Homo sapiens: one gene and its partners. The gene in region 3 interacts genetically with the main gene of each other region. Each region holds a gene or a part of one and is shown on either strand. Other genes may lie near its edges.

What was found.
Region 1: of GNA13 (region 3) and TEC, changing one enhances a phenotype caused by changing the other (phenotypic enhancement), as found in Homo sapiens cells (one study listed by BioGRID).
Region 2: of GNA13 (region 3) and ARHGEF12, changing one enhances a phenotype caused by changing the other (phenotypic enhancement), as found in Homo sapiens cells (one study listed by BioGRID).

Annotation. Positions count from the first base shown.
Region 1 is NC_000004.12:48,133,405-48,143,537, forward strand, and holds the end of TEC (tyrosine-protein kinase Tec), read right to left. Parts: intron 8,016-10,133; coding exon 7,951-8,015; intron 5,619-7,950; coding exon 5,500-5,618; intron 5,419-5,499; coding exon 5,261-5,418; intron 4,096-5,260; coding exon 4,012-4,095; 3' UTR 2,379-4,011; downstream 1-2,378.
Region 2 is NC_000011.10:120,483,501-120,492,102, forward strand, and holds the end of ARHGEF12 (rho guanine nucleotide exchange factor 12), read left to right. Parts: intron 1-937; coding exon 938-1,007; intron 1,008-1,566; coding exon 1,567-1,577; 3' UTR 1,578-6,437; downstream 6,438-8,602. UniProt on the Homo sapiens protein: May play a role in the regulation of RhoA GTPase by guanine nucleotide-binding alpha-12 (GNA12) and alpha-13 (GNA13). Acts as guanine nucleotide exchange factor (GEF) for RhoA GTPase and may act as GTPase-activating protein (GAP) for GNA12 and GNA13.
Region 3 is NC_000017.11:65,009,213-65,020,789, reverse strand, and holds the end of GNA13 (guanine nucleotide-binding protein subunit alpha-13), read left to right. Parts: intron 1-2,486; coding exon 2,487-2,537; intron 2,538-5,960; coding exon 5,961-6,533; 3' UTR 6,534-11,501; downstream 11,502-11,577. UniProt on the Homo sapiens protein: Guanine nucleotide-binding proteins (G proteins) are involved as modulators or transducers in various transmembrane signaling systems.

The DNA of each region.
Region 1 (10,133 bases), on a different chromosome or scaffold from region 3:
AGTATTATATATGAGGGAAAGAGACATTTGAGCCAGTGTTCACACTTGACCATGTTCACACTTTTAACCAGGTAGAGACTCGTGACTTTGACTCTTATTTTGGCCTTTACTCAGGCTCTGACTGCAGATAAGAATCAGTTTTGCCTAAATTTCAATTGCTTGGGAAAGGTCCTCGATAACGGAAGTCTACATAGAATTGTGAATAAATACCCCTGTGAAAATAAAGGTTAAGTCTATATGTTTACTTGATAAAGCAGATAATTTCAGAGTATAAACACAGTTGTGTTTTGACTTCTCTTCCTTTTGCCTTAAATATAGATATTTATTTGTGTGTGTGTGTATGTGTGTGTATTTATATATATATAAAGTTGCCCACTGTGATCCACCACTGCTGGAGCAAATCCAGAACTAGAACTTGGTCTCCTGGCCTTCAGCCCAGAGCTCATTACAGTCTCATTCTAAAAACAAGTACTTCATACTGATTGCATTTCTACACACACATATGCAGATTTCTGGACACTCTTTCTGTTTTTCTTTCATTTATGTTCTCAATGCTGAACCTTTATTAGAATTACATCATCACTGTGGTTCTTTAAATAAGAAACAAAACTCTGTCACAACATCTGAGGAAATTATCTTTTAATGTCCCCAAGCTCTATGCCTTGGAAAAAAAAAACTTCCTCTGCTGTTCAAGAATAACAGGCCCCAGAACAAGCCCCAAAAATAAATGACAAAGCCCATCTTACTCACAGGAGGAAAGGATCATGGTAGCCCCTTCTGCGGGGAGCACACAACAGTCTTCAGTTCTTCTGCGGTGCTCTACTCACAAAAACACATCTTTCAACTGAAATCATAGTTCGCTCAAGATGTTTCTCACGGGCAGAGTTAACCCCACCTATTTTCCTGTTCTGAAAACCTCAGAAGAGTATAAATGACAACCAATGGCATATATAAGAAAGCTCAGTAATCTCCATCCCAATCTCTGAGGGTATCTGCTATTAGTCTCTCATCCCCAAAGGTGTGGGTGACTCGCAAACATCATTTTCAAGAAATCACAAAATTTTGGTAAAAGGCACCTTTAAAATTATCAAATCAAACTGCCCTCTCTGGACTGGGAAGGAAATGAAGGCACAGACAGAATAAGGGACTTGCCCAAGGCCACACCGTGAGTGGCAGAAACAATTAGATTCTAGGCTCTGGAATATTGAGTTTAGAATGTTCCATCCTCCCACTCAGCAGACACTTTATTTGGGGGAAGTCAATCTAGTAATAACCCTAAAATGTGATTGGGGGATGGCTGAGAAATATAAAAACACCAACAATACAAAACACACTTGGGAGTTTCACTTCATCCCACTGGAAAGCATAACCATGTGTCAACTAATTAACAGAGCAACTTTAATGAAGACACAGCATATTCTAATCGCCCTTCCAATTTCCTGGTTTAGATTAAGGTCTCCTTAGCATTCTGGGTGATGACTGTTATTTTTACTTCACCTTTTGCCTTTGTTATGCTTTCGTATAAAACTTTTTTTCTAAGTCTTAGTGAAAAATATTTAAAGATTTTTGAAGGAAATGTTGACAAATGTTGCCAGGTGCTATCTATCTTGTTTTCCCATAAAAAGCATACACTGACCATTAGGACAGGGACTCTATCTTCTCCTCACTCTCTTTCATACCACCTAGTACTTCCCGTAGCTCCTCAAGGTGAAAAGGGAAGTATGGGATGGGAGGAGGGAAGGTCAGGAAGGAAGGAGAAAAGGCTGACAGTGATAGTAAGGTAGAGTGTGCCAGGACCGACTCCTTCAATGAGCTACAAGTCAGTTAAAAGTTGTGCATGGTTAGCAACCAAAATGCCCATCAATGATAGGCTGGATAAAGAAAATGTGGTACATATACACCGTGGAATATTATGCAGCTATACAGAATGAAATCATGTCCTTTGCAGGGACATGGATGGAACTGGAAGCCGTTATCCTTAGCAAAGTAATGCAGGAACAGAAAACCAAACACCACATGTTCTCACTTATAAGTGGGAACTGAACCATGAAACACATGGACACAGGGAGGGGAACAACACATACTGGGGCCTGTTGGGGAGGGCAGATGAGGGGAGAGCATCAGGAAAAATAGCTAATGCATGCCAGGCTAATATCAGGAAATATATATATCAGGCTAATATCAGGAAAAATAGCTAATGCATACCTAGGTGATGAGTTTTTGATAGGTGCAGCAAACCACCATGGCACACGTTCACCTATGTAACAAAACTGCACATCCTGCACATGTACCCTGGAATGTAAAAAAAAAGTTGTGCCTGTTTTTGTGATGGGGGTACAGTTAAACAGGTAGACAAGAAGGAATGTGGCAGATTGTGATAAGGCTCGGGATAAGCAGTTTACTTTCTTCCATTATGAGGGGCACAGGAAAAGAATAAACACAGCCTTCAGTGGATGGACTGCCTGGTGCACAGACTCTAGACTGACCAGGATGAAATGAAATGGTTCTCCAGGGTCAGAGTGAAGGCGCTGCCCAGAGCAGCCAGCCTGTGTGTTCACCCAATGCTCCAGAGCAGACCATCGTGGCCTGCAGAGGAGACGCAACTCCTGAAGGGAAGGCGCTGTGTCTTCCTCGGCTAGTTACCCCACCAACAGCAAGAATAACGTGTTGGGCAATAAACGGTCTCTGGATGACTGATACAGTTTCTTTTCGCTGGCGCTCACGTGACCGAGATAGTTTCTTTTCCTTGGCGCTCACAAGGCAAAAAGGAAGGCCCTAATTCCGTTGATGTCTTAGTAGAGCTTCTAAGGGTGAGAAATCCACACACACAGTCTTGACAGCAGGGTCTCCTGAGAGGCTGTACAACAATCCCACCATCCAGGAACCCAAGTCCAACCAGGCCTCCTGAAAAACGTCCGGGAGGCACGGAACACCATGCTGGCTGCTTCTCTCCGTAGCTTCCTGGATCCTCCGCCACAGCTCAGGCTGCTTCCGGGTCCTATGTGAGGTGGGGGCAAACTTTGTTGCGAAGGTCACCTGATCCTTCTGCCCCAGAGCTCAGCACTTCCAATTATAGTGTCTGTGTCCCAGGGAATATTCTTAAGGCTTAGAAGTAGATTACCCGGTTTAATTTTCCATCTGATTCTGATTAGCTGCGGCCACCATGGGCAGGATTACATAGGCCAAATGCACGTGGTTAAGCTGGACAGGCATCCCCAGACACATTTACCTGAGTGAGGAGGGGGCGTTACTCATAGAAGAATCTAGACTTTCTTCTCTTCAGGCATATTTGATGTTCAGGGGGAAATGAATTAACAGCTATAAGGCACAGTCTCTAGTCCTAAGAAGGTGAACTCCTATACTACAGGATTAAAAGTTTCAATTAAAAGACAATTCGTGTTTCTCATAAATATATAACTTTATATATTATATATATTTACAATATATACAGCATACAAATATTGTTCATGTAATACTAAGAGCAGTCTTGAAAACTGAGATGTTTTCAAAACAAAAGATAGGTATTTATTTATCCAAGATGGGTTCCTGATGTATCTAGAACCCAATTGTAGACAATGTCTCAGGCCCAGATTTCTGTAGAAGTCAAAGGGAAAAAGAAGGGTTGCTTGGTCATGACTCTAATACCCTTCCCCTTCCCAAATACCCTGGCCTTCAACTGGCATCAGCTAACATGGTCCCATGTGTGCACCCCTGAATGGCCAAACCCTGGGGCTACACACAGTGCCTGGTAAACAACTGTCACTCAAGTGCCTGAGGAATGAATAGAAATGAGTGATTTTAATCACCATTTCTAAGGCAACATTTCCACACTCTGGGAGATTCTGTCTAGAAGCAAGTCTAGACAGAGGCTGGTCTAGAAGCAAATTATTTATGTGTTTCCACTGTATAAGTAAAATGATCTACATGTCCAAGTGCTCAATAAATTAAAAGCCACAAAATGCCCATCCTTCCTTGTGCTTGGGAATCTGGGAGCCACTGGTCACACATCACTTATCTTCCAAAAGTTTCTTCACATTCAACTAGTTCATCTATTGTGCGCAGCAGATCTTCGAAAGAAGGCCTTCCCTCTGGTTTCTACAATTAAAAGTCAAAGAGAAGCTGTGGGTTCCAGAATCCATTCCACAAAACCTCTCACTGCTCCAACTCCTAAACACAGCATATTACAGAGAGACTTCACTGCTTTGGGACTAGGACATACAGGCATCTCCAAAGGGGTCTTGTCTCTACCCTAATTTACCCTGCATGTACTGCTGCTAGGCTAACGTTTCTAAGACACTGCTTTCATGTCTCTCTTCAAGACCCTGATAGATCTTTTTACTGCCTGTGAAATCAAGTCCTGCAAATTTGTAGGAGCCTCTATAATCTGCCACTTCCCGACCCTCTTGTTACCCAATCTTGTTCCCCACAAAATCCCTCACATGGGCTGTCTGTTAAATAGGGCCACTGTCTCCACTGTTGTGCACACTGTGTTTATAACCACCTCCTTACCTTTGCTCAAGCTGTTCTCTCTCCCTTTAGCACCACTTCCTGCCCAGAATGTCTCTGCCCATCCCAATCAATGCTCTTGGGAGGCAGTACAGCAAGTGGTTGAGACTCTGGGCTTTGGAATCAGACAGGCCTATACTGTTCTGTAGCTAAGTGACCCCAGGCAAGCAGCAACCTCATGACCCTTAATCTTCTCATCTACAGAGTGGCTACAGTCAAAGTATCTCCACCTCAAAGTGTTGTTTTGAGAACTAAATCCAAAACACTAAGTATAGTGCCTGGTACATAATACATGTGAGCTAATGTTACTGTCTTTCAGAAGTCATTTGGTATCTAATCTCTTTTAGGAGGTAACATTTCAATACTTTCAAAGACCTCGGAAAGTTGAGGTTTAGAGAAAGAAACCAACTCTGGTAAAAAAATAATACTTCAACTCTACAAGTGAACCAATGAAAAAAGAGCTACTTATCCAGGCTTATTCCCCAAGTCCCTATCTCAGGCAACCATGGAAGGAGTCCCACTTGGAAGTGAGGAAGCAGCCTGAATGTATCGAGGTAGTTATTAGCATTTTCCACATCTTTACATTCTTCTTCCCGTTATTCAGAACTTGAGTTGAGAGGGTTGGCTTCCTACCTAGAGCTTGAAATCACTATAAAGATGCACCACCTCACTAGGCTATAAAGACTGCATGTTATCCATCTACCAAGCCCAATCCCTAAGAGATTCAAAAAGAAAGCACACAAAAAATCTATACCTCCTGCCAACATCTCAGCATCACCTCATACACATAGTTGGACGCCAACTTCGGCTGGTAGAGTCGGTGGCCTCGAGTAACCATGGTTACCACTTCATAATTGGTGTATTTTTCAAAAGGCATTCTGCCTTCCGTGAATACTTCCCACATTAAAACACCTGGAAAAGGATAAGGATTACCAAATGGATGTATCCACTTTCTCCTCAGGGCGGACGGACATGAGGAAACATGGATCTTACCAAATGACCAGACATCTGATTTGCTGCTGAAGCGGCTGTAATTAAACACTTCAGGTGGACACCACTTCACAGGAAACTTAGCACCAGAAGAACTTGTGTACTGATCATCCAGAACATACCTAGAGTAAGACACACCATGGGTTTACACCTCTGAAGAACAATCTGTTTTTTCTACTTGCTCTTTCATTTTTTTCCCCTTGCAATCAAAAACACAGTTGACTGAAGTCCAACAAGCATCCGGTTGAAGCTAAATGTTCACCTCAGTGGCCACACCTGGTGATTTCCAACTTCCTCTCAGCTTAATTTAAGTGCATGAGATGGATCCATCACCACGTTACCATCTGCACTTTCATTTTTCTGTTTTTCTTTCTTTTTATAAGGCAGTAGAGACAAGGTATCATAAAATAGTTTGCAAGCTTTTCTTTGTAAGCAATTTTGTTCTTTAAATAAAATTTTACCCAAAGGCCCCATATGTAAAAAATCTAAAGCAGAGCTGCTCCAGAGGAAGTGGTATAAAGCATCTAGAAACACACAGGCTTTCAGGCCTCCAATTCCACAGAGCACAATTTAAAACTACAGCATATGAAAATAGCAAATGCAAAAAAACAAAAACAAAAACACAACACAAAATGCCACATGTAAATGGTGGAGTATGTATTTATACATAACATCCCCACATACATACATACACTCAAAACAATACTATATAATTTTTCTATGTGAACATACAATGTCCTTCTGGAAGAACATACAAAAACTGGTAACAGTAGCTAACTTTAGGGGAGAATCCTTGATTAGGGTTGGTAGATGAAAAGACTTCAGCCCTTTCTGTAAGGTGGGCAGCACATATTTACAAAAGGAATGTATCTCTGTATTGTGTGTGAATATACCATTAATTTCTAAAAGGTTCCATGAGAAAATTTTCGAAGAATTGCACAAACATCCTTTGCTATGTAGACAAAGATGGTGACTCGGCACAAAGCCAGCTGCTGGCTGGCAGACAATGCCACTGTGGGCTGGATCAAACTGTCAGCCAGTGGAGTCTGAATTTAGGGTATAAAGAGGTTTTTGAGTGGTTGATACAAAAGTGCAGATTTTCTGAAAGCCTAACATATGAAGATTGAACAGATGAAAGCGGCAGACAGCCTGTCAAATATATAGTATCTGTATATAAAAGCAAATAAAGAGCATTGGGTAATTAATATCCTAAGAGTTGGAAGTTCTGGTCCCATTTCTGACAGTAACAGTTTTCTAATCTCCCTGGGCCTGAGTTTCCTTAGGAGTTAAACTTGGCCCTACATGGCCTGGTCTTTGCCTGCATTTATGAGCATTCCTGGCGCTGCCCGTTGGCCAGCTACCCTGGCGCTTTTTCCGTTCCTTGAGCAGGCCAGACGTGTCCCAGACTTCAAGCTTTTTCACTTTTTCTTCCTACCTGAAATAGTTTATCCTTTTATTTTCACCTACACTGGCTACTTCCTACCTTTTCGTCTCCAGTCAAATCTGCCTATCACAAAGAGGTCATCCTGAACATCAGATCAAGTAGCCACCCTCACTCTTGCCCTGCATCATCATTCAGCACCACCCCAAATTATCTCTATTACAGGGATCAGTCAACTTTTATGTAAAGGGCCAGATAACACATATTTCAGATCTGGCAGGCCATACAGTCCCCGTGACAACTACTTGACTCTGCATCTGTAGCAGGAAAGCAGTCACAGGTAACACCTAAATGAATGAGCGAGGCTGTGTCTCAATCACGCTATTTTTATGGACAGCAACATTGGAATTTCAGATTTTTTTTTACATGTCATAATATTCTTTTCATTTTTTTCATCCATTTAAAAATGTGAAACCCAAATGAGGTTTGGGTCAGACTGACAGCCACAGTTTACCAGTATCGACCATGCTCGATCATGTAACTTTATCAGGTCTTCTGATTCACCCTCTTCCTCAATGTAAGCTGCATGCGGGCAAGGACTTGTAGGTCTTATTCTCTATATGGTTCAGCTTATCATTATGCCTGGCACAGAGCAGGCACCTGATTTTTTATGGGTGGATGTATGGATGAATGAATGGATAGACGGAGGGAGAAGAGAGAAAAAATAAACTAAATACCTTTAAAAGGTATTTTATAATACTATTAAATTATAAAAATTAAGAGAAGAAAAACACTGCAGACATGGACATACTAAGAACCTCACCACCAAATATGTTTTTGTGAAAACAAAAGATTCTAGAAATCTAATCCACACCAGGAAATACAGTGTATTTAACAGGCTATACTACCACCTAGTGGAGAGAATTACTACCATCACAATATATACTTAATTTAATCTGAGAACCAGTTAACAAGATTTCCTTTCTGCTTCATCAGTGCAAATTATTCCCACACTTATTAATTCCACCAAAAAAATGCAAACATCACCTAAAACCACGTATACTTGGACATACCTGGCCATTCCAAAATCAGATACTTTTACAACTCCCGCCTCACTTACTAGACAATTTCTGGCAGCCTGGAAAACAACATTATGATGGTATATTAGTTTAAAAATTCTATCATTTAAGTAGGAAAATGTAAGTTCTATTTATATTAAATTTAGTGTAACCTAGTCAACATTTGCAGAGAGTGGAAACACCCTTTAATAAGTTGTTTTTACCCCTATGGAAGTATTTCCATTGTGTATTTGAAAAAAATGAATAGGCAGGTCAGAAAGTTGTATTTGCAATAAGGCATTATTACATAATCTTTACCAATTGTCTTTTTTTTTTCTTTTCTTTCTTTTTTTTTTTTTTGAGACAGAGTCTGCCTCTGTCGCCCAGGCTGGAAGTGCAGTGGCACAATCTTGGCTCACTGCAACCTCCACCTTCCAGTTTCAAGTGATTCTTCTGCCCCAGCCTCCAGAGTAGCTGGGATTACAGGCACCCACCACCACAGCCAGCTAATTATTGTATTTGTTGGCCAGGCTGGTCTTGAACTCCTGACCTCATCCATCTGCCTCGGCCTCCCCCATTGTTAGGATTATAGTCACGAGCAACCTCACCGGCCAACTGTCATTCTTAAACAAGGGCTAATAGAAGGGTCAACTCACTTTTCTCCTTCCCAGACCTGTTCTTATTAAACTATCCAATTTTCTTACTGACAATGAGAACATCTCTTGAAGTCCTTAATCCGGTTCTCACTAGGTGAGCTTAATAACACACAACCATCAAAATGATGGGCGACCAATCTCTTATCCAATATTTCTGCTCAGTGATTGGTCATCTCATCCCAGTCAAAGAACAGGCTGGGTGCAGTGGCTCACGCCTGCAATCCCAACATTTTGGGAGGCTAAGGCGGGTGGATAACTTGAGGTCAGGAGTTCGGGACCAGCCTGGCCAACATGACAAAACCCCTTCTCTACTAAAAATACAAAAAAAATTAGCCAAGTGTGGTGGCACACAACTGTAGTACCAGCTACCTAGGACTGGAGGCAGGAGAATTGCTTGAACCCATGAGGTGGAGGTTGCAGTGAGCAGAGATCGCGCCACTGCACTCCAGCCTGGGTGACAGAGCAAGACTCCGTCTCAAAAAGAACAGCTATGTGTAAATACAGTTTGCTTTTTCATTTATGTTCCCAGTATATTATAACATGATGTACAAAATTGGTCAAATACAATTGTGGATTATTTAATTTATATTTTCTTGCATGTTCTTCAAGGTTACAAGGTTTAAGAAAATAGTTTGATAGAAAGACGTGGTATTTCTCAAAAGGAAGACAAGAATTTTTTTTTAATTTTTTAATTTTTTATTTTTGAAACTGAGTCTCGCTCTGTCACCAGGCTGGAGTCCAGTGGTGCGACCTTGGCTCACTGCAACCTCCACCTCCTGGGTTCAAGTGATTCTTCTGCCTCAGCCTCCCGAGTAGCTGGGACTACAGGCGTCTGCCACCACGCCTGGCTAATTTTTTTTGTATTTTTAGTAGAGACAGGGTTTCACCATGTTTGCCAGGATGGTCTCGATCTCTTGACTTCGTGATCCGCCCGCCTCGGCCTCCAAAAGTGCTGGCATTACAGGCGTGAGCCACCACACCTGGCCGATAATATTTTTAATACCATAACCCATAGACCAAGATATGTTTTTCTTCCTGACTGTTCATAATTCTATTTTCTCTATGTGGCAATTCCACTCATATGAGGTTCCTTCTTGCTGAGTGCATTTTAAGAGTCTTATAAAGTGAGAGTTAATATCCATTCCCTGGACTGCCTGCATCTTCCTATGAAAACACTTCACAACTCCACAATGCCTGCACTGGATGGTCAACAGGATTCTTTACCAAGGAGACAAGAGCATCCAAAGTTTCCCATAAGGGGTGACACAAACCTACCATAGTAATACCAATATCACAGGCACAGAAATGTAAGAATCGTTTTTGCCAAAACATCATCTGTGTGGACAGGTGTAATCTGCCACACCCACGTAGATACTCAGTTTTTATCAGTTTTATAAGGACATCTATTTTGTTCTTAGTTCTTAGTTCACAAGTTTTAACTGACGAGATGTTCTTCATCATCCCTGACACAATGATAACAATAACTGATGTTATCTACAGCATGTCTATTTTACAAAGCCCATTGCCCCAGTCAAATAATGT
Region 2 (8,602 bases), on a different chromosome or scaffold from region 3:
GCAACCTCCGCCTCCCGGGTTCAAGCGATTCTCCTGCCTCAGCTTCCTGAGTAGCTGGGATTACAGGTGCCCGCCACCACACCCAGCTAATTTTTTTCTATCTTTTAATTTATTTATGTATTTATATTTTTTGAGACAGAGTCTTGCTCTGTCGCCCAGGCTGGAGTGCAGTGGCATGATCTCTCCTCACTGCAAGCTCCACCTCCCAGGTTCACGCCATTCTCCTGCCTCAGCCTCCCCAGTAGCTGGGACTACAGGCGCCTGCCACCATGCCCGGCTAATTTTTTTTATTTTTAGTAGAGACGGGGTTTCACCATGTTAGCCTGGATGGTCTCGATCTCCTGACCTCGTGATCCGCCTGCCTCGGCCTCCCAAAGTGTTGGGATTACAGGCGTGAGCCACCGCGCCCAGTCCCAGCTAATTTTTATAATTTTAGTAGAGACAGGATTTCACCATGTTGGCCAGGCTGGTCTGGAACTCCTGACCTCAGGTGATCCACCTGCCTCGGCCTCCCAAAGTGCTGGGATTACAGGCGTGAGCCACCATGCCCCACCCATAATAATCTTAAGGGACCATCATCATGTATGCAGGCCGCCATGTCTTTATGTGCTGCATGACTATAGCTCATGCACATGATGACGGGACCATGTCCAGGGTGACTCCTGGGGGTGGGAGAATTGCATCTATGGTTACCACCTCTACTTTCTTTTTACATGGGAAAATACTAAGTTATTCCTTCAGTGGAGAAATTGGTAAAAGGAATGAAATTTACTTTTTTCTTCCCACTAATGAAATTTTTAATGATGAAGTTAATATTTTTGAAATTTGGGGGCTTGTACCTGTAATGTAAAAAGGGCTTCTTTTCTGTTTTCTGAAGTTTTTGTTTTGTTTTGTTTCATTACGTTTGAATAAAAAACCTATGGGTTTTATTTCACAGAAGGTGGAGGAAAGTTACACCATTCTTTGCCAAAGGCTGGCTGGATCAGCCCTCACAGACAAGCACTCAGGTATGTAAAAGTTATGAGTTCCAGACTCTAGACTAATCATCCTACACTGAATGAAATGACTTATCATACTTTGAAGTGAAAACCTTCTGAGATTCCATTTCTCTTCTGTCTTTAAAGAACTGCCTGTTTCTAAACATCAGATATCAAGCGGAAGCTCATGCCTGCTGACTCTACTCTTCTCTAAGAGGAACTGCAGTTGTCAGTTCCCATACCATCCCCTCTTCTCTCTCTTTTCACCTTTTCAAAGCAGAAGGCAGAGCAGTGGGAAGCCTGGTAAATCACAGATTCGGTGTGAGGCTTACTGGTACTGCTGTGACTCCCTAGTGTGGAGGATTTGGCCTTATTGGATGTTGGTGCACTTGCCTCTGCTGACAGTGTGGCTGGTGTCTCCCCTGACTGCAGATGGATTTGTGTTCCCTGCAGCAGTTTATACTCATCTGCTTACATACTGATTCAGAAACAAAGATTGAACCACGCCCACAGATGTCATGGGTATTCTTTGCAATGTTAGTATATTCTTTTTCTTAATATCATTTCCATGTATCTTTATTCTTCTCAGATAAAAGTTAGAGCCGCATGTCCTGGAGGTGACTGCAGGTTGTTGGATTTGGAGTATCGGCCGTGTCTCACCACATCCTGGCTCCAGTGTGGATGCAGAGAGAGTGTGACAGAGGATCTGCCTGTGAACCACCTGGGATTAGTCAAGTCCCAAGGTGCCCAGAGTGGGACTAGTTCTTCACAGTGTGGCAGCTGCACTAATCTGTTTGTGAGGGAATATCCATTCCCTCACTCTACTCTCCTCACTATCGGAAATTCATTTTGATTCAGAATAAAAACCAAATGTATAGAGCTTTGGGTGTAGGATATGAAATTGTACTTAGATTTAAGAAAAAGAGAAAATCAGATGTATTTATTTGACTTCATTCCGTATTTGAAAGCACATTTTAATTTTTATTTGCCTTGTTTTGTTTTAATTGAGTAGTGAGAGTTTTAGACCTTTGTCTTTAGTACACCCAAGGATCAACTGCTCCTGAAGCAAAGAGGTCAGGATGGAGTATGCAGAAGTTGGGTAGAGAGGTTAAGAAGAGGAGGAAGTGAGACGGGGAAGGGAGGAGCACCTTGCTTCACTATACAGTATTCCAAGCTCTCTGCTGTCCAGTAGGCTGCTTCTCTGAGGGTCACCTCAAAGGTATGCTATGCCGTGTGGCTCTTATGTGCCCAGGTGGTGTGGTCAGAGAGTGGATGGGCTTCCTCCCGCCCTGAGGCAAGCACCTCTTCTCTGTAGCTGGGATCAACCACAATTAATAGGAATCCTCAACATACTAAATAGCAGGCACTTGAAAATGGGTGTGTTTTCTTCCATTGTCGTCTTTTCTATTGAGGGTTGGGATTTGGGTGGGAGAGGAAAGCAAATTTTATTTTCTTGACTATAAATTTGTTATTCTTGGTATCATTTCATTTTTATAATTATACATTAGACATTGGCACTTGTGTAAAACTGTCCCTGCAGATTGAGCAGGAAGTAAAAACAAATGGAAATGCTTCGGATAGTGGCAGGGGTGGGGGTTGCTAAGGAAAGGGTGGGATGGGAGTGGGTAAAGAGTTTGGGAAGGTTATCTAACTGAATCACTACTGAGTTGAATCATGGCTATCATTAGCCACAGGTACTGCTGATTATAAGGCCAGTAAAATTTTAGTACCTGGAGGTTTGACTCTAATTTTTGCACTGATGGTGCCAAAGGGCCCTGAGTCAAAAGGATAGCCAAGGGTGGAGTGGAAAAAGATATGGTGAAGGCAGAACTGCTCACACCAGCTCCAGAAGCACGTCCTCTGACTTCACTGCCGCAGCTCTTTCCACACGGGGCCGTGATTGACCCTAAAAATTGCAGACCAGCACATACACTGGACACTGCAGGCAAGGTGTTGGTAACTGCCTGCTCTAGGATGAATAGTAGCGTTAGCAGCACCCTACAGAGGGTAAGTTTCAGAATTGTAATTTGAGAACTCCTTCAATTATATTGACTTTCTTTGGTTTTCCTTGTGCATTAGGTATATATTTTTTGAAGTATTTTTGCCAACTAAAATGAAGTCTGTAAATTCTGTTAATAAACAAGGAGTTCATCCGTTGCTCACATCTTTCATTGGTGCCCTCTGAACTCTGTGGGTTGCTAGGATGTAATTTTAATGCTTCCCTGCAGTCCAAAGATGATTTTTTCACCACAAATGGTAAGGGATGCCCACCTACTTTTATAAACACCACTGCAACTTAACAAGTTTATTTATCTATGTCCAGATTTCTGTTTCTGTCCTAAATTGATCTGTGTTTTTAGGTGGATCAACTTGGATCTTTAGACCTCATCTATAAATTGAAATTATATTTTTAGTCATAAGCCAAGTACAATCTAACTCAGAATGGGATTAAAAATTTTAGAAGCAGAAGCTAATATATAAATGAAGTTTGGGATTTGGAACTTTCTGTATCTCTTAGGAGGAACAAGTAAAAACCAAATGGTTACATTGTGCTGCTAGAAATAATGTCATTCTCAATTAAAAGGGTTACACCTGTAGCCACTTGACACTAACACCATCGAGGGCAATTAATCAGGAGAAAAGTAAATATAAAAACTTTGCTCTTAACGTCACACACTACAGGGTAATTATGTAATTCTCTAGCACTCAATTAAGAAGCTTGTAGGTTAGCAAAATTTCAGTTTCTCTAGTTCAGCCAGTGTCTTGTCCTTAGTAATTATTTGCTTTCCCTGCAGTTCAATTTCTCCTTGGAACTCTAACAGGACTAACTGGAAAAATACTTTGACCATAGCTCTAGTACTTCCAAATAAATTCATATCTAGATTTTCAAACAAAGCCCCAAGATGAAGTCTAATTCTGAAAATATCTCACAATTTTTGAATGTTCTTTTTATCTTACCGACCTAACTTCTCTTTTCCCTCCCAACTTGGCCTCCCACACGTTCCATTTCATTTTGGCCATTATAGTCACATCCGTTTGACTTTGGTTGTGACATCTTCCTTTCAGGATGATGGAATTAGATGCAGTCTGTCTTTGAGTGAGACTGGTCACCATCAGAGGAGTTTTTTCTAAGTGACGTGACTAGAAGTTGAAATCTACTTCCCTGCTAAAGGGCACAGGGGTGGTGTACAAAGAAAGCTACCTTCCCAGAGCAAGCAGGCTGCATTTTAGCTATGGAAGTGACCTGCTGTGACACTGTGCTCTCTTCTGTGGGCTTAATGGTTCCTTTGCTATGAAGTGGCAAATTACATGTAGAGTGTCTCCTTCCTTTTCAGAGAACAGTTAATCAAGGCAAATCAGCAAGCCCCCAAAGTGCTGTAATTTAACATCATGATTACCACCTTCGAAGCTATATATTTTGCATACTTTAAAATCACCTAACTTGGACTGCTTGAATTACATTGGCTTTTAGAACCGAAATTGTAACTATGTATTGTATTTCATGGGAGGTATATTTTATGAGCTTTTTGGCTTTCTTTTTTCCCACAGCAACTGCCAATGAAGGATGAATCCCCTTTTTAAAAAGTTGTTGTTGTTGTTGTTTATTTGATTTTGAGTTAGGAGGGATAATAGAGAAGTCCATTTAAAAATTATTTTTAGAAGCTAAAGAAAGTAATTATGCTTCCTGTGAATTGTCTTTTACTGGCATCTTTGTTTTCCTCTTTGATGTTAGTAAATTTGGTGTAATACGTGGGGCTTCCATATTTCAAAGTGGAAGCTTTCTTCTCTGAAGTCGATATATGGTTTTGAATTACTAGAGCTTTGGTCAGTATTTCCTTCCCTATATGTCACAGAGGGCACCACTGAGAACTGCGTGCATAGGACCTCAAAATACAAAATTAGCAGGGCCTCACAGTCAGCTTCCTCATGGCTAGTTTTTCCCCCTTATATTACAATTTTTGTTTTATAAGTCATTTTTTTCCTGATATTTCCACCACTTTTCAGAGTCATCTACAAAATTTTTCTTTCCTCAAGAAAAGAGTTCCTTTTGCCTTATTCCTTATGCCTTCCCCACTGGTATTGAGGGTTTTGATAATAAATTGGTAGGAAAAAAAAGTACCTCCTAGAAGGAAGCCTTCCCCACCATTTCCAGGTGCCAACTGCTAAGCAGATATATTCCAAAAATGGTAACTGTCATGTGCACACTGTTGGTTATTTTTAATAAGCCTCTTCCTACTAGAACATTTTATTTTCCTTGTTCACCATACAATCATGTACTCTTTAACAGAAATTGCTTTTAAAAAATATCTGGAACTATCTTTAAAAAAACTTTATTAATAATCATGTATTTTTACTGATCACATTTTGAAATGCCTAAAAGACTTTATTGTTCTAATTATCCAGATGTACCTTTGTAAAATAGCTCTTTTATGAATTAGCTGATAAGGCTGTATGTTTCTGGAACAAAATATTGGTCATCTAAAAACTTTCTGTTTTCTGGGGTCTGGGAAAATAGAAAATAAGATTTCAAATATTAAATAAGCTTAAAGGAACCAAGCATGTGACTTTTTATTTGTATTCTGGTTGATTTGTCTTGTCCAAGTTATATTAGAAAAGTTGAGGAGTCGAGGAGCCTGTAATTAATTTTCCTGTCAGTGACTGTCAGACATCTTCCTGCTTATTAGAGCATCCCTAGCAACAAGGCTAAACCTTCATGACAGTGCTGGCAGGTGGGCTTGCCCTAGCATGTGGGGCAGGTTTGTTGTTTTTTTAATAGCTTTATTGAGATATTCACATATCATATAATTCATCCATTTAAAGTGTATAATCAGATGGGTTTTGGTATATTATTGATTTTTAATTGTGGTGAAATATATATATAACAAAATTTGCTATTGTAACTATTTTTAAGTATAAAGTTCAGTGAGGTAGGCCAGCTTTTATGACGCACCTGAAGATAACTTTGGTTTTAATCCTACCCTAAATGAAGCATATGCCTCTATTTTTCCTGTCCCCAGTGCTGGGCTTCTTCACATACCAACATTTCTGTGCTTTTACCAACAGCATTTTAGCTCAGAAGGCTCGCTTACTTTGGGCATTTGCTGTATTTTGGTTTTGAAATACTTGTAATTTGACTTATTCTTGGGATAATATTTTAGTTTTCAGTCATTCAAGGGCACATTTGGCTGACGGAGCTAATAAGCGTAATAAAATGCTTAGTAGTTTATACCATCTTTTAGTTAAACATTTTAAAGATTAAGACTATTCAAATGTACTTTGCGGAAATTAACCTGTTTGTATGCCTGGCTTTGTTTACAAACATATATCTATATCTATATATATAGATACAGATACAGATACATATCTGGTGGAACAAAGAAATACCTGTACCATTCCCACTTGCTCTTTGATAGCCACCTCCTAGGAATGGAGACAATAAAACTCTGTATTTGCATGTGAGCAGTTACTTCTATTTTTTACTGCCCTCTTTCAAGCTAAATGACTGGTTTACCAAAGGTTTATTACCAACTTCAAATATAAGAGGATCTATCCTGATTAAAAAGTTGCTTTTTAATTGAACTCGTTATCTCCTTGATGTTTTATGACAAATGTCATAAAGCATGAGAGATAAGTAGCTGGATGTAGGTGTTTCCCATTTTCTCTATAATGTCAAGGATAATTCTTGTTACTAATTGGAAACACTTCCTCAACTTTAGCTGTCAGGGAATATGTTTGTTTTGCCACTTATTTTTACTAGTGAGACATCATCATTCCCTTAGCATCAGCAGAGGCCTTGGTTTGAGATCATTTAAGGTATGTAGAGCTCTCTTTCTAGATTTTCCCCCTCAATTGATTAGAGTGCTTTTGGACCGACCTGTAATTTAAGGCATTTTATTTTAAGGGATCTTTTTCTTTGTACGTGTGATCAGAGGGTTGTGGCTGCCTGAACACATGCTAATCAAAAACACTAATTAGGATACATTTTGGTAATCTTTTAAAAACTTTCAGGGAGGCATCTGTACAAAGACTTTTTTTCTGCTATCATTATTTTAAATATTAAAGGCAAATAGCATGACATAATGCAACACTTTTCAATCTTTTTGATCTCACGACCACTTTTTAAAAAATGTATATCTTTTTTTGTGTGTTGTTCTTGTTGTTGTTGTTGTTTGAGACAGGGTCTTGCTCTGTCGCCCAGGCTGGAGTGCAGTGGCACTAACGTGGCTCATGCCGCCTCAACCTCCTAGACTCAAGTGACCCTCCCTCCTCAGCCTCCCAAGTATCTGGGATCAAAGGTGTGAACCACCAGGCCTGGCTAATTTTTTTTTATTTTTTGTAGAGATGACATTTCTCCATGTTGCCCAGGCTGGTTTCAAACTCCTGGGCTCAAGCAAGCCTCACCCTCCCAAAGTGGTGGGATTACAAGTATGAGCCACCACACCTGGCCAGGACCACTGGACACTCTTAAAAATGATGAAAGACTTCATGGAGAAGCTTGTATTCATGTGGATTATAGCTATCAATTGTTACTGTATTAGACATTTAAAAGAAAATAGAAATGAGGAAAATGAATTTATTTAAAAATAGTAAACCCAAATACATGTGAACATAAATCACATTTTTATGAAAAGATCACTATTTTCCACAATTAAAAATTGAGGTTTATGTAGTTTTTGAGATCTCTTTAATGTCTGGCATAATAGAATACAGCTGGATTCTCATGTATGCTTCTGCACAATCTTTTGTGATTTTTTTTTCTTTTTTTTTGAGACGGAGTCTTGCTCTGTCACCCAGGCTGGAGTGCAGTGGTGCCATCTCAGCTCAGTGCAACCTCCACTGCCGGGGTTCAAGCGATTATCCTGCCTCCCGCATGAAATGGGGTTTTGCCATGTTGGCCAGGCTTGTCTCGAACTCCTGACCTCAGGTGAGCCACTGTGTCCGGCCCTGTTGTGGTATGTTGAAGTATATAAAGAAAATCCAGGTTCACACGGATACATATTTTTAAATGGAGAAATATTGGAATAGCCTTTTCAGATAATTATGGATATTCTTCTTTGATACTGTACAAAATTTGGCAAGTGATAGTTCCTTCAAAGATAGCTGCAGTGTGGAATCTGAAATCCTATCAAGGAAGTTTTTGTACTCTGTTAAACTAAAAATCCACTGATCCGTTTTACACTTTATTTATGTGAAGAGTGGTAACTTTTACCCATGCATGATTTTGTAATATCCTGTATTGGTCATTTGGAAAATACTGGTTTACTGAATTATGCAGTTCTTCCAAATATTGACACATTTCTTTATATAAATATCAAGTCACATTTGTTAATATCACAACTGATATCAGAAAAGTCCCATGGTAAATGCAAATTTCACAAAATTCTAATGTTTCCTTGGAATCTTGAATTTTATCATTGGCAACAAATACAGTTTTCCTTGAAATGACAGCCTCACTTTTTTTAATTTTTGAGTGAGAAGATACCTGCCAAATATTCAAGTCTGAATGGCGATTGCTTACCAGTCATTCTTTCATGTTAAAATGGTCTTCCTCCATTTAAAAAAAAAAAAAAAGTTGGGCACGGTGGCTCACACTTGTAATCCCAGCACTTTGGGAGGCCAAGGCG
Region 3 (11,577 bases):
AATCCCAGCTACCCCAGAGGCTGAGGCAGGAGAATGGCTTGAACCCGGGAGGTGGAGGTTGTATTGAGCCAAGATCGCGCCATTGCACCCCAGCCTGGGCAACAGATTGAGACCCTGTCTCAAAAAAAAAAAAAATTCCCTTCAGTAACATAAAATGAACTGGGAAAAATATGAGAGCCTCAAGTTACAACCAGCAAAAAGTGAGTCTTAAACCCATAATATTCTTGCACAATACATTAAATCCTTTATTTATTAGCAAAGAACGTGGAAGCAACACCGCTTGAATGAGTCACAACAAAAGCAGATTTAGGATTAACAAACACATGGCCTATGAGGAAAGGAGAACTTAACTTGAAATCAGTGGAACTAACTGAAATTGTTGCACAGGGCAGAACTTAAGCGGTTGGTTATCCATTGAACCACTGAACTTCTTCATGTAACTCTGGGGGAAATGGAGACCTGGAGGAGTTTAGAGACTTGGCCAGATCACTCCTTGTTAGAGAAAGGACTGAAATTCACATCTGTTCCTTAACATTAATATTAGAAAACAAGAAGACTTTGATCACTTCTGAAATTGTTAAGAAAAAAATATTGAAGGGTAACTTCCTCCCAGTAATTCATATTTTATCTGCCAGACACTTTAGGAAGGTAGGAGGAGAGGATACCAGTTGCCTCGTACTGAGCTTTGTATAAAATTTGAATGAGGACACTAAACACAAAAAGAAGTGATCAGAAGCTGTTGAGCTTATTGAGTCCAGAGACATCATCATTTGTTTCCATGTCTTCCGTTTTTATTTTTTTAATTTTTCTGTTTTTAATTTTTGTGGGCACATAATAGATTCATATATTTCTGGCGTACATGAGCTGTTTTGATAGAGGCATGCAATGCGTAATAATCACTCATGGAAGATAGGGTATCTCTCCCTTCAGGCATTTATCCTTTATGTTACAAACAATCCAATTATACTCTTTTGGTTATTTCTAAATGTACACTTAAATTATTAGTGACTATAGTCACCCTGTTGTGCTATCAAATACTGGTCCATATTCATTCACTTTAACTATCTTTTGTACCTATTAGCCGTCCCCACCTCCTGCCACCCCAACCCTTGCTGCCCTTCCCAGCCTTTGGTAACCATCCTTCTTTCTATCTCCATGGGTTCAATTGCTTTGATTTTTAGCTCCTACCAATAAGTGATAGCATGCAATGTTTGTCTTTTTGTGTCTGTCTTACTTCACTTAACATAGTGACCTACACTTCCATATATGTTGTTGCAAATGACTGAATCTCATTCTTTTTTATAGCTAAATAGGACACCATTCTGTATGTGTATCACATTTTCTTTACCCATTCATCTGTTGATGGACACTTAGGCTGCTTCCAAATCTTGGCTTTTGTGAAGAGTGCAGCAGTAAACGTGGGGGTGCAGATATCTCTCTCCTCCATATACTCATTTCCTTTCTTTTGGGTATATACCTAGCAGTGCCATTGCTGGATCATATTGTGTGATCTTGAGACCAAAAAATTATAGAACTGCTACTTTCAAGCTTTGTGACTCAAAGTGTGGTCCCAGGCACTCCTTGAATTGCAGAAACTGGGGTCCCACCCAGACCTACTAAACCGGAGCCTGCAGTGTGAGGAGATCTTCACATGATGCCCAGGCATACTAAATGAGGTGCTGCTTCAGGAACACTTGGAAGTAGCTTCAGGCAGGGACAATGCTGCAGCTGTAGAATCCCGCGGGAAAGTGAAACGCAGGGGGTGAGGACTAGGAGACTCGGACACAGACCCCTTCTTTCCCAAAATAGTTCCCCTCTTCTCTGTGTGCTCTGGTCAAGCGTTTTCATGTTAGGAATGTATTCTCGTACAGTTTAGATGTTTGAAATTGCTTGGAAGTTTCGTCGAGAAAACTGGGCTCAGAAAGGATAGGCCACTCGGGAAAAGACCTGTTGGAGATGTGAAGCTGGCAGCACTATCCAGGGCCTTCCTGAGCAAGGCACGCCTGTCCATGCCTGTGGTTGGGGGATTTTGTACAGTATTCTTACCTCATCTCTGGTTTGGTTTGTCTCTGAAGATAACTATCGTCACTATTAAGCTAGAAAATGTAGACAAAAAGACTGTCACTTAAATTTTATATGTAGATTTATGTTTTATCTCAAAAGCAGTTTTCATCTTCTAATTATATGTCTTCACTGTGGATACGTAGTTATAGCAAAAAGCATGCGTGTAATCCTGTCCAAGCAGATGATCACTTGGGATATTGATTCTATTAAGCATTTGTGAAATCAGCCTGCCTTTGCAGATTTAGCAGTCTGTGACAGAGCAGACGTTTTATATGTTTTTAGGAAGGTTAGCTGTCTGAAATTGGTGACTAAACAAAGTCTGTTTGGGTTAAGTGTACAACCAGACAGTATGATGTAAACTGTTGTAACAAGATCTTCCATTTCTAAGCCCTAATAACTATTTGTTTTCTTCTTGTTTTTAGGGTGAATCTGTAAAATATTTCCTGGATAACTTGGATAAACTTGGAGAACCAGTAAGTGTTTAAACCAAATGTTTATGTTTAGTGCCATTTGAAAGCAGAAGTCAGGATATCGATGTTAGGAAATTTAGAAAAATTATGTATTAAGCTATTTGCTTCTTTCTCTCTTTTTTTTTTTTTTTTTTTTTTTTTTTTTTTTTTTTTTTTTTTTTTTAGTGGTGGCGTTCTGATTCTTCTCTGCTTTATTTAGAGTGATTGGTAGCTCAGAATATTGAATGATTTTTATTTTTTCAAAATGAAAGTATTTTTATTGTTTAATCACGACACTTCTTTTTTCTCCCTCTAACTGTCCAGGTCTCTACCATTTTCTTGAGGAATGCTTTGTCTGCTATTTCTTGGAAGTAAAACTGTTTAGAGAAAGAAGTTTGTGTTTGAAGATGATATTGTGCATTATCTGTTATACTTTAGTATCTTTAGAGGTTTTTGTTTGTAAACAGAAATAGAACACAGTGGGTTGACTGATTTCCAAATCTTTTGACAAATGACATTTTCGAATTCATGCCCCCTTTGTGTCGAGTCACGGAGTAGGAGGGCTAGATTTAAAAGGCTGAAGAGACTCCACGAGGTAGGGGGAGTCGCCCTTGAAAAGAGAGTCTATCATTTTCCTGTAGGTATTCCTCGGAGCCAGCAGCTCTAAGCTGGCGCTGTGGCCAGCGGGGCCCACTGCAGGCAGAGCATCTCGCTTGTTTGACCTCTGTATTGGGCGTACACAGAAGAGTTCAGTGGGAGAAAGGTTTCTGCTGCTTAGGAAAATTTTGAAAGCCATTGCCTTAGAGTCATCTGTTACTCTCTAAATGTAGCACAGCTTCATTTGCCTCCTCATAAGGCAGGTTTCTTCTTCTTCACACAGCTAGTATGTGTGTGTCCTCATCAACATACTCTGCTCTGCCAGACTATTTAGCACTCGATTGCATGAAGTTCTGTGCTTCATGTGAAGCAGCCTTTAGATTGCTAACTAGATTATTAGCTTTAATAGAGACAAAGACAATAATAGAGAACTTTTTATTTTTATGGAATTACATTTTTTAAAAGCTCAGGGCCCGGCGTGTTTCTGAAGGAGCTGGCATAGGTGTATGTTGTAAATTGGTATTGCCTTCTAGAAAGCAGTCGGGTGTTAAGTATCCAGAGTCATTAAAATGTTTGTAACCTTTAACGTCATAATCGTACCCCTGATTATTTTAATCTTAGGAAATAGTCCAAAGGAAAAAAAAAATGTGCATGAGAATTTTAATTGCAGTATTTCTGTTAATTATGGCTAAAAATTGGAAACAACCTTAATGACCACTAGTAGGGGAATGTTAATGTAAAGTACAGCACGTTAATGCATTTGGTGTATTTTCTTGTCTTTTAAAATGAGGTATGATTGTATCAGCATATGGAACAGTTCACAAAATATTAAGCAAAAATGCAGAGGTAGGCTGAACGCTGTGTGCATATGCTGATTATAAATAAAGCAGGCGTGTATCTGAACAAAGCTAGAAGAAAACATGGAAAAGCTAACACTTGAGTCCTAGAGTTATTTAATGAATGGCTGTTGGTTGCCAGTAACTAAGAACCCACCTACTTTTAAAAAACTCTGAATTCTGGCCGGGTGCAGTGGCTCACGCCTATAATCCGAGCACATTGGGAGGCTGAGGCGGGAGGATCACTTGAGGTCAGGAGTTCGAGACCAGCCTGGCCAAAATGGTGAAACCCCGTCTTTACTAGAAATACAAAGAAGTAGCCGGCCGTGGTGGTGCACACCTGTAATCCCAGCTATTCGGGAGGCTGAGGAGCAGAATCGCTTGAACCTGGGAGGCGCAGGTTGCAGTGAGCCGAGATTCCGCCACTGCACTCCAATCTGGGCAACAGAGCAAGACTCCATCTCAAAAAAATATGTATATATATATATTCTTAATTCCATTGCACCATTTTGAGACAATGAGTATTCTTGTAATGAAATTTCAAAATCATATGACACTATTCAGAAAGGCATAAAGTGCAGCATTGTGAATAACAGCATTGTTTTAAATCCTGCCTTGATTTTTAAAATATTTTGACCTTGATGATAAATATTAGCTGTCCCGTTCATGTATTACCAGAAAGTTGTGTTGTAGTTTTGGAAAAATGCTAGACTGACAAGGAAGAACCAGTTACATTGCATAAGGAAGTGTGCCATCACAGAGTAGCCAGAGACTTGTGTGACCAGCAGCTTCTGTTTGTTCAGGGTCTTAGAGTTCACTGACCAAGAGTGCAGAGAAGAGCTCATTTGATCCTTGCAACAACCCTCCCTCCCAGGTATATAGACCAAGTGTGATCACCTCCATTTCACAGACAGAGGTGCTGACACTCAGAGTAAGTGACTAGTTTGAGTTCTTGGGTCAATAAGTAAGAAATTAATTATAGTAGAGAAAGGATTTTTCACACATGTAATATAGCAGCAATGAAAACATAGAAGTTTTAAGTCATGAGTGGGGTTGCACAGTAAAAGAACTTTTAGAATAGGTTAGAGAGAGGTGGGCAGAACTTGGAACTGGGAAGTGATCCTTGTGAATTGGCACTGGAATCAGATCCCATTGCCTTTTTTTTTTTTTTTTTTTTTTTTAAGACAAAGTCTTGCTCTGTCACCCAGGCTGGAGTGCAGTGGCATGATCTCAGCTCACTGCAAGCTCCACCTCCTGGGTTCACACCACTCTCCTGCCTCAGCCTCCCAAGTAGCTGGGACTACAGGCGCCCGCCACCACACCTGGCTAATTTTTTTGTATTTTTAGTAGAGATGGGGTTTCACTGTGTTAGCCAGGATGGTCTCAATCTCCTGACCTCGTGATCTGCCCGTCTCGGCCTCCCAAAGTGCTGGAATTACAAGCGTGAGCCATCGCGCCCAGCCCCCATTGCTTTTAATAGAGGAGCAAGGAGCAGTGTGGAGAAGGTAGATACGCAGACAGGAAGATCACTCTGGCTAGAACCAAGAGTGGCTGATAGTGGGGAGTAAGATTGCAGGTGGATATATAGCAGTGAGGGTGGGTAAGAACAATTGATAAGACTTCAGCTTAAATTTTGAGTAGTATTGCAGGGATGAAAACAAGTAGATTCTGGCCATTTGTAGTAAATTTTGAACCCGTCCTGCTAACATTTTAATGTATCTTGGCTTTTGTTGTGGGGAGCACAAGTGGGTCTTGCTATATTGCCCAGGATATTCTCAAACTCCTGGCTTCGCAAGCGATCCTCCTGCCTCAGCCTCCCAAAGTGCTGGGATTATAGGCATGACCCACCATGTCTGACCAGTCTTGGCATTTTATAATAAGCATAATCTATCTGAAAATGTCACTTAAAAGATCATTTTGTTTGCATATCTATTCACTAGTCCAGTTAGTAGTCCATTAAAAATTCGCATTACTTCGGGATTAATAGGTATAAAACAAGTTTTTTCTTTTCCAGGATTATATTCCATCACAACAAGATATTCTGCTTGCCAGAAGACCCACCAAAGGCATCCATGAATACGACTTTGAAATAAAAAATGTTCCTTTCAAAATGGTTGATGTAGGTGGTCAGAGATCAGAAAGGAAACGTTGGTTTGAATGTTTCGACAGTGTGACATCAATACTTTTCCTTGTTTCCTCAAGTGAATTTGACCAGGTGCTTATGGAAGATCGACTGACCAATCGCCTTACAGAGTCTCTGAACATTTTTGAAACAATCGTCAATAACCGGGTTTTCAGCAATGTCTCCATAATTCTGTTCTTAAACAAGACAGACTTGCTTGAGGAGAAGGTGCAAATTGTGAGCATCAAAGACTATTTCCTAGAATTTGAAGGGGATCCCCACTGCTTAAGAGACGTCCAAAAATTCCTGGTGGAATGTTTCCGGAACAAACGCCGGGACCAGCAACAGAAGCCCTTATACCACCACTTCACCACTGCTATCAACACGGAGAACATCCGCCTTGTTTTCCGTGACGTGAAGGATACTATTCTGCATGACAACCTCAAGCAGCTTATGCTACAGTGATGTACAAAAGACTTGCTGTTTTAATATCTTTTTGTGTTTTTGATGTTTTCTGTTTGTTTTGTTTTTTAAAATAGCAGTTTACAACCAGAATTAGAACAATCTTAATTCTACGTTTAACTTCTTGAAAATCTTAGTACTTTTTCTGCGGCCTTTGGTTTGTGGCTGAAAGCTGTTGAGTGACTCATCGCCAAGATTTGCTGTAATGCAGGCTTTGATCTGTTTCACCATGGCTTCTATTCAAGTCCAGTTAAAACCTCCCAGCTGACCTCAGACTAGGCATATTTCAGGCTTTAAATTATTCTACTTTCCAAACTGAATTCTCCTGCAGTGCCAAGTATCAAAGGTGTCCTTAAATACTTGTAGGGATGAGGTTAGGAATATTCAGTTCCAAAACAAGATATCTTCTGTCCGCCTTACATATAGCAGTGACACTTGTTGCCTAACTTTATGGTGACCTCCTATTTTGTAAGGGCTGTTAGAAGTTCTATCTAAGAAATGGCATTCTGTAGGTTTATAGAAGGTTTAGCCTTCATATTTTAATTGCTTGTATACACAACAGCTGTTTTGCTTTTAGATTTCTGTGTTTCTGAAGGTAATGTTCTTCCTGTTTTCAAGTTTACATAAGGATCTTTGGTCTGATGCTGATGAAGAGTTCACAGGTGGTATGGGAGAGCAAAAGGCAAGCTAATGCTGTTTACCGTGTTTTGGTCAAACGTAACGAGTGAAATAGAATTTGCCTTTCTCATATTTAATTATCATGTAGTTTAATGTACCATATGTGAAACATTCTGGCCATAGCAGCAACTAAAAACTGCAAGCAACTTGGTAACAGAACTTTCTAAATAAACTTAACCTGTTCCAGAATGTCATGTATTTGACTTTTAAGCCCTATCTCAGTTGGTCAGTAAAGACCAATCCTTACTGTAGGAAATCATTGTTGTATCATCACAAACATCTATCTTTTGCTGTCCTGTCCAGTCCCATCAACTCCACACTGTGCCATTTGTGGCATCGTTTTGTTTATTTGGAGTTTGCTAAGGGCAGTATTTTTCTGTCAAGACTATTCAAGAAGGCATTATTTGAGATTCCTGTTCATTCTTGGTGTGTCTCTAACAGATACAGTATGTATACATTTGTATAATTGTTGTTGTTGAAAGTCCAGCTTTTTTGAGGTATATTTTAAATGTTTTAAGGATGCTTCTAAGGATCAGTAGTAATTTTTTTAGTTCGCACCTAAAGATGATTACATTGACCTCCCCCGACTGCTTACCAAATTAAAATGTGTCCACGAAGTAGCTTTGTGATCGCAGATACATTCATAGTGAACTCATCAGAATGGCTGGTTTGCAGTACTGAAATACTATCTTCTAGGCTGTATGTAGTGCTACAATTAGAGAAACAGAAGTCCAAGGCTGGCGACAGCTTGAAAAGTCTGACAGCTTTTCTACTTTTCCTGAAAATTTTAAGACTGTGATATCTGTCATTTTACTGTATAGCTGACTGTGTACTCAGGTATTTTATTGGTCCTTGAAAGATTGGTCGTTATGGATCACCCAGCCTTTCCAAGTCAGTGGCTGTTGTTCTGTCTTGCTGTCTGATACGAGAGTGGGGCTTTTCAGTGAACTAACCAGGGATTGTTCTTGACATACCTGACTTTTCTCACATTTGAACTTCCACTATCATTGTATCCATATAACTTCTAGCATTTTCATGCCATGGTAATCCATGAGCTACACATACGTAGCCCGGCACCGTGATGCAAGTTCATGGTATCGTGCATGTTCGTGGTATCATGGTATCATTCATGCGTGTTTGAATAGTTCTACATCTAGTGCTTCTTGCCAAAAAGAATACATTGTTTAAATTCACAAAATTAGCATAATTGCAGTGCTAATGAATATCGGAATATGTGCACAGTAACATTTGGACTATTCATTGGAGAGTTTACCCATACATTTAGCAAATTGAATGGCCAAAACATTTGACTCCAGTGAGGGCTCAAGTTAGATCCCTATAGAAAGAGGACACTTCATCTTACTTAAGTCATAGTTAAGATCTGTGATACGAACCATAGATATTGCCTGACAAAGCAGAAATCACCAAGTTTCCCCCTTTTGAATTACCACCAAGAAGTGTTGAAACACCAAATAGATATCATGTTATTTTGGGCATTTGCAGTTTTCTTCCCTGCTGCATGTAATGTCTCAGAATCAACATTCTTTTAAAATCTAGACTATATTTTGAGGCAATGAATTACTTATATTCAACTTAGGCTTGTTTTGACATTCAGTAGAACTTTAAGTTCAATCTAAAGGCTTCAGTCCACATTTTTTTATACGTTGTATTTTAAAAACGTTTGAAAGGAGTCTTACACCTGTATCATGAAAACTGAATCCTTTTGAAATACCACTATATGAAGAGAGAGATGAAATTTAGTGAACAGAATTGAAAAGGTGCTCATAATTTCACTATGCAAACTTACCCCAGTCTCTAAAAAAGTAATTTAGATTTAAAGTTCTTTGATGTATTTGATTTTCTAAATCTTTATGGTTATGATTTGGAATAAAATGTGCCTAATCCTGTGTTACATTCTGTTCTTAAATCTGAATGCCTTCTCATTTAATTCTGAGGAAATATCACACAAGTGTCTTCATTGACCTTGAAGAAATGTATATACAGTTGCCTTATAAAACAACATAAATTTAGACCATAACTTTTATAGAGAAAGGGTTTTGTCAAATGTTTTCTGAAAATCTGAGTAATTCAAAGCATGCCTCTGCCCCTTTAATATTTTTAATAACCTGCATTGTTGCTGTCTGCCAAATATTAAATTGAAATCTTCATTTCAATTTTATTATCTGGAAAGGGCACTGGATTGCTCTGCAACCAAAGAAAGCAATATGGAATGAAAAAACTCATTCACTTTTGTCTTATTTTCTTTTAAGGTGTATTGGCATGTAATTTGCATAGAGAAGGTCCTCTGGTTAGTCTCTCAAATTGAGGCTGTTTAGGGAAATCCTTATTCAGTTGGTGGCAGTGGTTGGTTTAAAGTAGAAGGAAATAAGATCGCCTTAATACCAGAAATGATTAGAAGTGCTGATTTAGATTCAACAAATACCATATGTCCTTATCATTTTTTGTAAGAAGAAATTGGTTAAGTCCTAACTTTCAATGTGTACCCAAATACTTGTATTTATGCTTTTGATAAAATGTATTTTCAGCATTAATACACATCCGATTATGCCTTATTTATATATGAAGAATAAAGTTACCATGTTACACTGTTATGTCCTAAAATTCAAATCACTATTTGAGAAACCCTCAAATTGGTGCTTTCATTATATAATGATACATTTAGACAAAACCCCAAACTAAGCCATTTGAAACAAGATTCTCTCCATTGCAGTTTGTAGCAATGTTATTTCTGTGTATGTCATGAGAAGGCTAAATATCAGTGTTAATTTCTTGTTTGAATCCGTGAAATCATGCCTGTAAAGCCCAAACATTTGTAACAAACTCCCTAATAAATTTAGAGAAAGTCACTCTGTTACCATTTCATTTATTTTAGTTTTATTTGAGAAATTAAGACCAGAAGTTTTGCTCATGTCTTTTTCACTTGGAAATCTGACTTAGTACCTAGTTAATTTGTCTCTCTCCCATCATTTTAAGGCGTTCGCTTCTGTTAATCACAGATGATCTGTCCTTGTGTTGTGCTGCTTGACTAAAAGCACTGTTTTGTTTTGTTTTGTTTTGTTTTTTAATGATAGGATACAGGGTGGCTTTTCAGTCTAGTAAACATGAGGAGGGGAGAGATTGTGGGTGGGTGTGGGTGTGTCCGCATGTCCCAAATACAGCACATGCCCATTTTTTTATGGTACGAGGTTAGGGCTTATTAATAAATGTATACTAGATCTTGAAGTGTAAGTCTAAGTCTGAACATTTTAAACAAGTTGGACTTTATGGCTTTTTCAAGTTCCATCAAGTAGATACTAGTCTTAGGCTGGTAGGTGATTAACAACATCATTTGGAGTACAGTGTTTGTACCACTAGCATTCTTATGTCTGTACTTGAACGTGTAGTTAGCATTTAAGTTATGTTCACTCTTGTAGCATTCAGGTCTTACCATCTGGTTTCAAATGCGAGAGCTTATATGAACATTGTTTTGAAAGCATGAATGATATGGCAATATTTTATGTCTTGATAAGGAGAGTTTTGTGACATATACAAATCTGCTGTTGATGATGAAAGTTTACAGGTGGATCAGAGTATGCTGGAACTCAGTGTGCATAAAATTTCAGTCAGTGAATATCACTGAACGTCATATACTACTTGGTATGTGACTTTGGTTTGTGTTAAGAAAGCTTGTATATAATATTTTTTGCCATAGTAAGTGAGAAATTGTCCTTAATCATGCCTGTTTGATGGTACTAGGAAAGAAAGGGGTAGAGATTAATTCTTGCACAGTATAAGCAACAGTGCAACAAACTATGCCATTTACCTTTTACCTCTTACTTGAAGGCAGAATCGCAAAACGTTTGAAATGGCTTTTCTAAACTACTCTACTCTGGTGAGAGCTCATTTACCACAAGAAGCCTTATAAAAAAGTATATTTTGTAATAACCCCGTAGATACTGTACCTAACAAAACATGACTCGTATTAGCTCTATAAAATATTTGTGGCTTAGGATTTTTTTTTTACATATATCTTTTTATAACTTTCCAGGAACTAAGCACATTATCTGATAATTGTTGTAAATTTTTTTGTCAGTGCTTTAGTTCAGGATGGGCAATAAATTATTTCTAAAGGAGGTCTAAAAGTGGAAAGAATGGTTTGATTTTATAAAATGAGTTGCTAGTTCATTACAGCTTTTTACTTTTGTACATATTTTGCAAAACATTTGCCTCTTGCTATTAATATTTGCTTTGTAAAAATTACTGACATTTAATAAACATTTGTAAACAATTCAATACTATGATGTTATTTAACAGTTTGGTAATTGTAAAATGTAAAGCAGATACTAAAAGTTTGAAAGCAAAAGTTTCA